Homo sapiens: one gene and its partner. The protein of the gene in region 1 interacts with the protein of each later gene in a pairwise test. Each region holds a gene or a part of one and is shown in the gene's direction. Other genes may lie near its edges.

Region 1 (3,751 bases):
AAGTCACAAAGCAGAGATACTCCAGAGGCCTTTATTAGGAATAAAAATATAAATAAAAAACCAGCTACCTTTGGACACAATTGACTCCACTACCCAAGCGTGACAGGCTCACCTATCTCATGTCCTTTACTCCCTGCCCAGGGGAACTTCACTCAGCCCAAGGCCCAGATCAAATGCTACCTTGCCCATGATCCCAAAGAAAGAAGTCAGAGAGGGCAGAAGCCACCCCATTCTCTCCCTGTGTCCTTAGGCACTTACAGTATTGAGAGGCCAATGGGAGGAAAATCCTAGGCTTTTGGAACAGGAATAAATAAGCAATGTTTCTGTCCATAAAATGACTACAGTCTAGAGGCGGATACTATGTGGATCACTTTATCCCCTGCAGAGACGATACAATCTCTGGTCCGGAAACACGGGTGATTAGGGATTGTATGGGCCATTTGAGAGTGGGGCCAGGCTTAGAGGGCCGTTCACACATGCAATAATAGTAAGAACAAACATTTACAGAGAACTTTCTAGGTGTTGGGCTTCACACATGCAATAATAGTAAGAACAAACATTTACAGAGAACTTTCTAGGTGCTAAGTACTTCCCATGGAACCCCGGGGAGGACCTTGGAGCTAGGTACCATGATCGTTCCCGTTATACTGATGAAAACACTGAGGATCTTGAAGCAAGGAAACCAGCCCAAGGCCACCCGGCCAGCAAGTGGGGAGCTAGGATTTGAACCTGAGCAGCTGACTCTAGGCCCCAGAACTTCCTCCCCTCTCCATACCTTCCGATAAGGCGGGTGATGATCAACATTGCCCAGAGCAACCTGACAAGAAGCTGGGTTTCCCAAGGCCTTATCCCATGGGGTGGGTGGATGGAAGGGGGAGCAGGCAGGGTACCTGCCACTTGATCAATAACTCAAGAGCAGGTAATAATTTCTTCTGGGAAAGGTGGAAAGGGCAGGGTCAGGGGGCAAAGAAGTTCAGAAAGAAAAGGAAGGAAGGAAAGAGAGAGATGGGAAAGGAAACGGGAAAGAGAAAAGTGAGAGCGAGCGCGCGCCACGCATGTTCCTTCCCAAGGTCGTGGTAGCACCGAGGGCACCGCGAGGGCCCGGCGTTCCCGGGAGGGGCCGTCACTGCCCAGAGAGGGGCCGTCACTGCCCAGGCAGCGGTCGCCCCTGACTTCCCGGGGCCGCGGAGGCGCGCGTGGCGGGGCTGGCTTGCCCCCGAGCGGCTCCGCAGCGAGCTTTCCCAGCCCGGTGTTTACTTGGCCCGAGCAGCGGCCGGACCTGCAAGCAGGAGCCTGCGCGCGGCGGGTGTCGCGTGTGCCGGGTGGGAGTGGCGTAGCCCGCGGTGACTGCGGGTTGGGGGGGCGCCACGCGTCCGGGCGCGGAGTTGGTACGCTCGGTTCGGCGTGCGCGCGGCCTCGGACTCCCGGCTCCGCGGGGCCCTTCCGGAGGCTCCCGCCCGACCCCCGAGCTTCCGACGGAGGCGCCGAGCGCCGCGCCGCGTCCCCAGGGGCCCCGTGCACGCGCAGAGCGCCTCTGCGGCCGAGCGCGGCGTGGCACTTGGCAGACGGTCCCTGGCGCGGGGGCGGGGGGCCAGCCGTCTGGGAGCCCCGAGGGCCGCCCCCTCCCGCCCCTCGCCCGGCCCCCGCGCGCTGCCTCCGCCCCCGGCCCAGCCGCCCGGCCCCCAGTCCCGCCCGCCGCGCCGGGAGCCCGGCCCGCCGCTGAGCCCGGCCCGCCGGCGCGCCCCGTCCGGGATGGGGCGCCTGGACGCCTGAGTTGCCGCTCGGCGCGACGGAAGGAGCCGGCGCCGCGCGGCCGCGCTAGAATGGAGGCGCCCAGCGGCAGCGAGCCCGGCGGCGACGGGGCCGGGGACTGCGCCCACCCGGACCCCCGGGCCCCTGGCGCCGCGGCGCCCAGCTCCGGCCCCGGCCCGTGCGCGGCCGCCCGGGAGTCCGAGCGCCAGCTGCGCCTCCGCCTCTGCGTCCTCAACGAGATCTTGGGCACCGAGAGGGACTACGTGGGCACCTTGCGCTTCTTGCAGTCGGTGAGTGTCGCTCGGGAGCTTGGGGACAGCTTTCCCTCCAGCCGCTCGCCCCGCTGCGGTCCCCACAACCTGTGGCCGTGGTCCCCGTGGGTGGAGAATTGCCTCGGGGGCGCCCCGCAGGGCGCGCGGAAAGCGGGGGGGATCCGAGCTCCTCCAGAGCTGTCGCGTCGCCTCCCTCCCTGGCCGGCGCACGGTCCTGCTCCGACCGGGGCTCTCCCGCACTCCACTTCCCCGCGGCGCGCGCTGCCCTTTTGTCTTTTCTTCCCCGTCCCCGCCTTTCAAATAGTTTTAAAATTAGTTACATCCGCGATGCAGGGGCTTGGGGACCCCGGCGGCGCCGGGAGCTGGCGCTCCTGCGTCTTTTTCCCAGGAATAACTACGCGCCCGGTGCACCACTCATCTAGGACATACCGTAGGAGCCCCAGAGCCCAACGTCCCTGCGCGTTGATGGAGTAGGATAAAACCTGAAGCTCAGAGGAGGGGCGGGGATTGACAGAACCCCAGGGTAGAATCCCCCATGCACAGGTTTTTGCTGGAGTTCGGGGAGAGTGGGTTTCGAACTCAAAACTCGGCAGTCCAGGCTCCCTAACTGCATCCACCCCCACCAACTCCCCATCTCCAAGTGCAAAACCACGGCCTCAGACTTTGTAAAATAACAACCGACCACTTACTATGTGCCAGACACCTTACATGTGTCATTAATTAGCAGGTTTAACCTTCACAGGCGGTCTATGAAGTAGGGACGAGTATTTCCCCCATTTTTAATTAAAAAAATTTTTTTTTGAGACGGAGTCTCCCTCAGTCACCCAGGCTGGAGTACAGTGGCGCAATCTCGGTTCACTGCAACCTCCGCCTCCCGGGTTCAAGCAATTCTCTTGCCTCAGCCTCCCGAGTAGCTGGGATTACAGGCACGCGCCAGCCACCACGGCCGACTAATTTTTGTATTTTTATCAGAGAGGGGATTTCACCATGTTGGCCATGCTGGTCTTGGACTCCTGGCCTCAAGTGATCCGCCGACCTCGGCCTCCAAAGTGCAGGGATTACAGGCGTGAGCTACTGGGTCCTGCCTCCTCCGTTTTTAAGATTGGGAAAGTTTAGCTCCAGAGGGGCCGGGTAGCTTGTCTGGGATCGCACAGCTGATTAAGTGGGGGTACTGGGCTTTGAACCGGGACTATCCCAGCTGGTGTTCTAAACCCCTATTCTATGCTGCATTTTTCTTTTGCTTTTTTTCTGTGAGAGGGAGGAAGGGGCCACTTCCCTACTCTCCTAGGAAGTGAGAAAAGTGGCCAGCGGGTGGAGGGGGTGGGACGGGGCAGAGCCTTGGATGGAAGTTAGGAGACTCTAAAGTCTTTAATCTCCATGCCTCCTGCTGGGGCCTCATTTACTCCCCTTCTCTGCTCTAGGAAGTCTTTTAATCCTGGTTCAGGAAGGGCTGGTGTGGGGGTGGCTCTTTCAAAGACCCTAGAGCCAGGCTTTGTAGCTCCTAGTCTTTGGGAGAAAGAGGGAGACTCTGGGGTCCTCTGGGGCTCCTCATGGCTTAGGGGTGCAGCTGAGGCTGTGTGAGATCAGAGTTCCAGCTCAGGGAGGAGACAGCCTTAGACTAGAGCCCTTCTGCCTGTGAAAGGAGATGTACTGGGGGCAGGGGGATGTGGGAGAGGGGGTTGTGCAGAAGCATTGAAAACCATTTGGCTAAAGGACCCTTCTAGGAA
Region 2 (3,751 bases), on another chromosome or scaffold:
CTGCATCTTTTATATACAGGACCTGTGTATATGTACTTGGGCTCATAGCTAAAACCAAACAAGGCTGTGATATTCTAAAATGTCACAACTGGGATGCTGTGAGGCATAGTCGCAAACATCTGTGGCCAGTGGTTCCAGATGATGTGGAACAACTCTGTAATGAACTTTCATCTATCCCAAGCACTCTAAGTTTGAACTCGGAGTCAACCAGCTCTAGACATAATAGTGAAAGTGAATCTGTGCCATCGAGTGAGTATCCTGACAGGTTCATATAAAGTTAGCCAATGTTAACATTTATATTTGAATTTTAGAATTTAAATGTATTTGTTACATTTGTAATTTGCTTTTGTCTAAGATAATTATTTGGCAATAATAGCCTCTTGGAGAATGTGTATATTTTCATAACAAAGAGTATAATCACCAGCTTACATTTTTCTCTCTCCTTATATTCTAAGTAGCTTTTGAGGATTCCTACAAAGTTATGTAATAAGCCATGTGCCAGAAGAACCAGTCCTCCTTTTTTTGACAGAAAAGAAACAAATATAACAAGTATTTATTTGTCTACCTTCTTTATTTAATCTTTTTACTCATTTTTCAGATACTGAGATTGTTGAGCCAGAATATATTTTTAACTGATATTATATTCACATCTTCATTTTTGAGAGAAGCACTAAATTTTAAAATAGTGAAATTGTTAATAGAGTAACAAAAATAGTTATATATAAAATGATTTGTGGTTTTAAGTCCTGTGCTAAGTGGTGTTAGGTGTACAAAATTTAAGGCATGGTTCTTCCTTTTAAGAAGATAGTGTCAGCTTTATCAGACTGTGTATTTCACCAAATCTGAGATGCCATGAATTATGAAATATGCCAATATTTTATGTACCACAAAAGAAGAAGAAAGAAGAAGTGCTGCCTATTAAACTAGGACATACTACAAGATGCATATTGATTTTAGAATCAGATTCTGTGTGAAAATAGAAGGGATTAAATGTGAAAAGTGTGCATCTTAGAATTGACAAAATATAGAAATGGTAATGCAGTATGCAAATTCACTTAGGATTTTCTTTTACCTTCTTTGAAAATATATTTGAAGTATTTGTAATTATTCAACAGAAAAGTTAATAAAAGAAAAATCGTATAGATGTCATTAGGCACTCACTTGGGTTGCGTCTTCTAGTAGAATTGGGCACTAAATTTAATGAGTTTCTTAGTATCTAAGGTAAAATGAGAAATAAACATAATTTAAACATGAATTTATAATGTTACCACTTGGTTCTCTGTAAGTATATTTTAAGATTGGGAATTCATTTCTTACAAGGTGAATTTCTCCTGCTTATAGTAATTTAAAGAAGAACCACTAGGAATCTGTAGTAATTGAGTAAGCATCCATGGCCAAGTCTCCTTTTTCCCTTTAATTTCATCCTGAATATTTGGAGAATCAAAAGAAACTTCATGTAACCTGTGCCATAGTGGGTCTTATAATAATTTTTCTTTGGAAATAACAGGAGATTCTCATAAATTACATAATTTTACATTTTATTCAAGTCCAAACTCTGGGTTTCAAGAAAGATATTTTCAAGTAGCTGAATGGTTTAACCGTTTATTTTTAAATTTTTTCCTCTAGATGACTAAAAAAAAATTTCCTGAAATGTGATGTCACTAATAGTTATCATGAATTTGTCATTTTATATGTGTTTTTATTAATTGATCCTTCAATCATAGGTATGTTCATATTGGAGGATGACCGGTTTGGCAGCAGCTCTACTAGCACATTTTTCCTTGATATCAATGAAGATACAGAGCCAACATTTTATGACCGATCTGGACCCATAAAGGATAAAAATTCATTCCCTTTCTTTGCTTCTAGTAAACTTGTGAAGAATCGTATCTTAAATTCGCTTACTTTGCCTAACAAAAAACATCGTAGTAGCAGTGATCCAAAAGGAGGGAAATTATCATCTGAAAGTAAGACAAGCAACAGGCGAATCAGAACACTTACGGAGCCCAGTGTTGATTTTAATCATAGTGATGATTTTACACCCATATCCACTGTACAGAAAACATTACAATTAGAGACTTCATTTATGGGGAATAAGCACATTGAAGACACTGGTAGTACACCAAGCATTGGAGAAAATGACTTAAAATTCACCAAGAATTTTGGTACAGAGAATCACAGAGAAAATACAAGCCGAGAGAGGTTAGTAGTAGAAAGTTCAACGAGCTCACATATGAAGATACGTAGCCAAAGTTTCAATACAGACACTACAACAAGTGGCATAAGTTCAATGAGCTCAAGTCCTTCACGAGAGACAGTAGGTGTAGATGCTACAACTATGGACACAGACTGTGGAAGCATGAGTACTGTGGTAAGTACTAAAACTATTAAGACAAGCCACTATTTGACGCCACAGTCTAACCATCTGTCTCTCTCCAAATCAAATTCGGTGTCCCTGGTGCCTCCAGGTTCTTCTCATACGCTTCCTAGAAGAGCACAGTCCCTTAAAGCACCCTCTATTGCTACAATTAAAAGTCTAGCAGATTGTAACTTTAGTTACACAAGTTCTAGAGATGCTTTTGGCTATGCTACACTGAAAAGACTACAGCAACAAAGAATGCATCCATCCTTATCTCACTCTGAAGCTTTGGCATCTCCAGCAAAAGATGTGCTATTTACTGATACCATCACCATGAAGGCCAACAGTTTTGAGTCCAGATTAACACCAAGCAGGTAAGCAAATATATGTTTAGAAGTGACCAATAATGGTTGCATTTTAACAAATTTAAATACAAAATGTTAGCCAGGTTTTACACTATGTGAGCCTCATCACTGACCTATTATAATTGTTTACTATGGTAGGCTATAAGCTCCTTGTTACCCGATATGACTTGAAATGGATTCTTGCAGCTGCGAGGGGGGAAGAAAATCCTATAGGCCCTGAAAATAAACATACATGCTTTGCAAAGGACATACAAGTCACAAGCTTTTTTTTATTTATTTCTCGCTTCTGCAAGGATCGATTTTAAAAAGAAGCATGTCGGGGGAATCAGGAGCTTAAGACCTACAATAACAAACAACCTTTTCAGGTAGGTCAATTTAAGGCTCCAAAAGTTGACCTCTTTATTATTTTTTTAAAAAGATAAATGAAAATTTCAGTGAAATTATTTTCACTTTAAGTAGCTGTGATTATTAAATAGGAACCTAATAAACACTAAATGAAATACTTGGTCCTCATGACTCAGCAGGGATTTCTATACCATATTTAGATTATATCAAGCTAGTCAAAGTGAACAGTTTAGATTTTACTTTTAAAAGATACACAGTATTTGCTGCAAAAAAATTTTGTACCTATAATTTTTGTGGTTGGACCAAATGCTTCTAAACAACTTTCCTTAGTTTTAAATTATTCATTTACATTTATTTAAGTGGATTAATATATGTCAGGTACTTATATGTCAACAATATATGTTAGAATACTTTAGCACATATTAAGCACTCAATAAAAGTTAGCTATTTATCATCATCATTGGTAGTTATTTAATGTAATCCATCTAGCCCTTACATTATTCTTAATAACATTAAGCAGTTTTGTTTCAATAATGCTTAACACATTTAATAGAGGGTTTCTTGGTAGCAGACAATGAATTGTGTACCCTTACAGGATTTAAGAAATTATGCAGCAATGTCTCATCTATCTGGAACTCACTAGCTTTGGCAACCTTGTCCAGGACAAAGCCAGGGAAAGTTC

What was found. The genes of interacting proteins can lie anywhere in the genome.
Region 2: the proteins of PREX1 (region 1) and RICTOR interact in binary tests that used the Homo sapiens proteins (3 or more experiments, as listed by UniProt).

What each region holds. Positions count from the first base shown.
Region 1 is NC_000020.11:48,825,933-48,829,683, reverse strand, and holds the start of PREX1 (phosphatidylinositol 3,4,5-trisphosphate-dependent Rac exchanger 1 protein), read left to right. Parts: upstream 1-1,684; 5' UTR 1,685-1,823; coding exon 1,824-2,042; intron 2,043-3,751.
Region 2 is NC_000005.10:38,948,694-38,952,444, reverse strand, and holds part of RICTOR (rapamycin-insensitive companion of mTOR), read left to right. Parts: intron 1-19; coding exon 20-249; intron 250-1,724; coding exon 1,725-2,733; intron 2,734-3,017; coding exon of another isoform or gene 3,018-3,089; intron 3,090-3,751. UniProt on the Homo sapiens protein: Component of the mechanistic target of rapamycin complex 2 (mTORC2), which transduces signals from growth factors to pathways involved in proliferation, cytoskeletal organization, lipogenesis and anabolic output.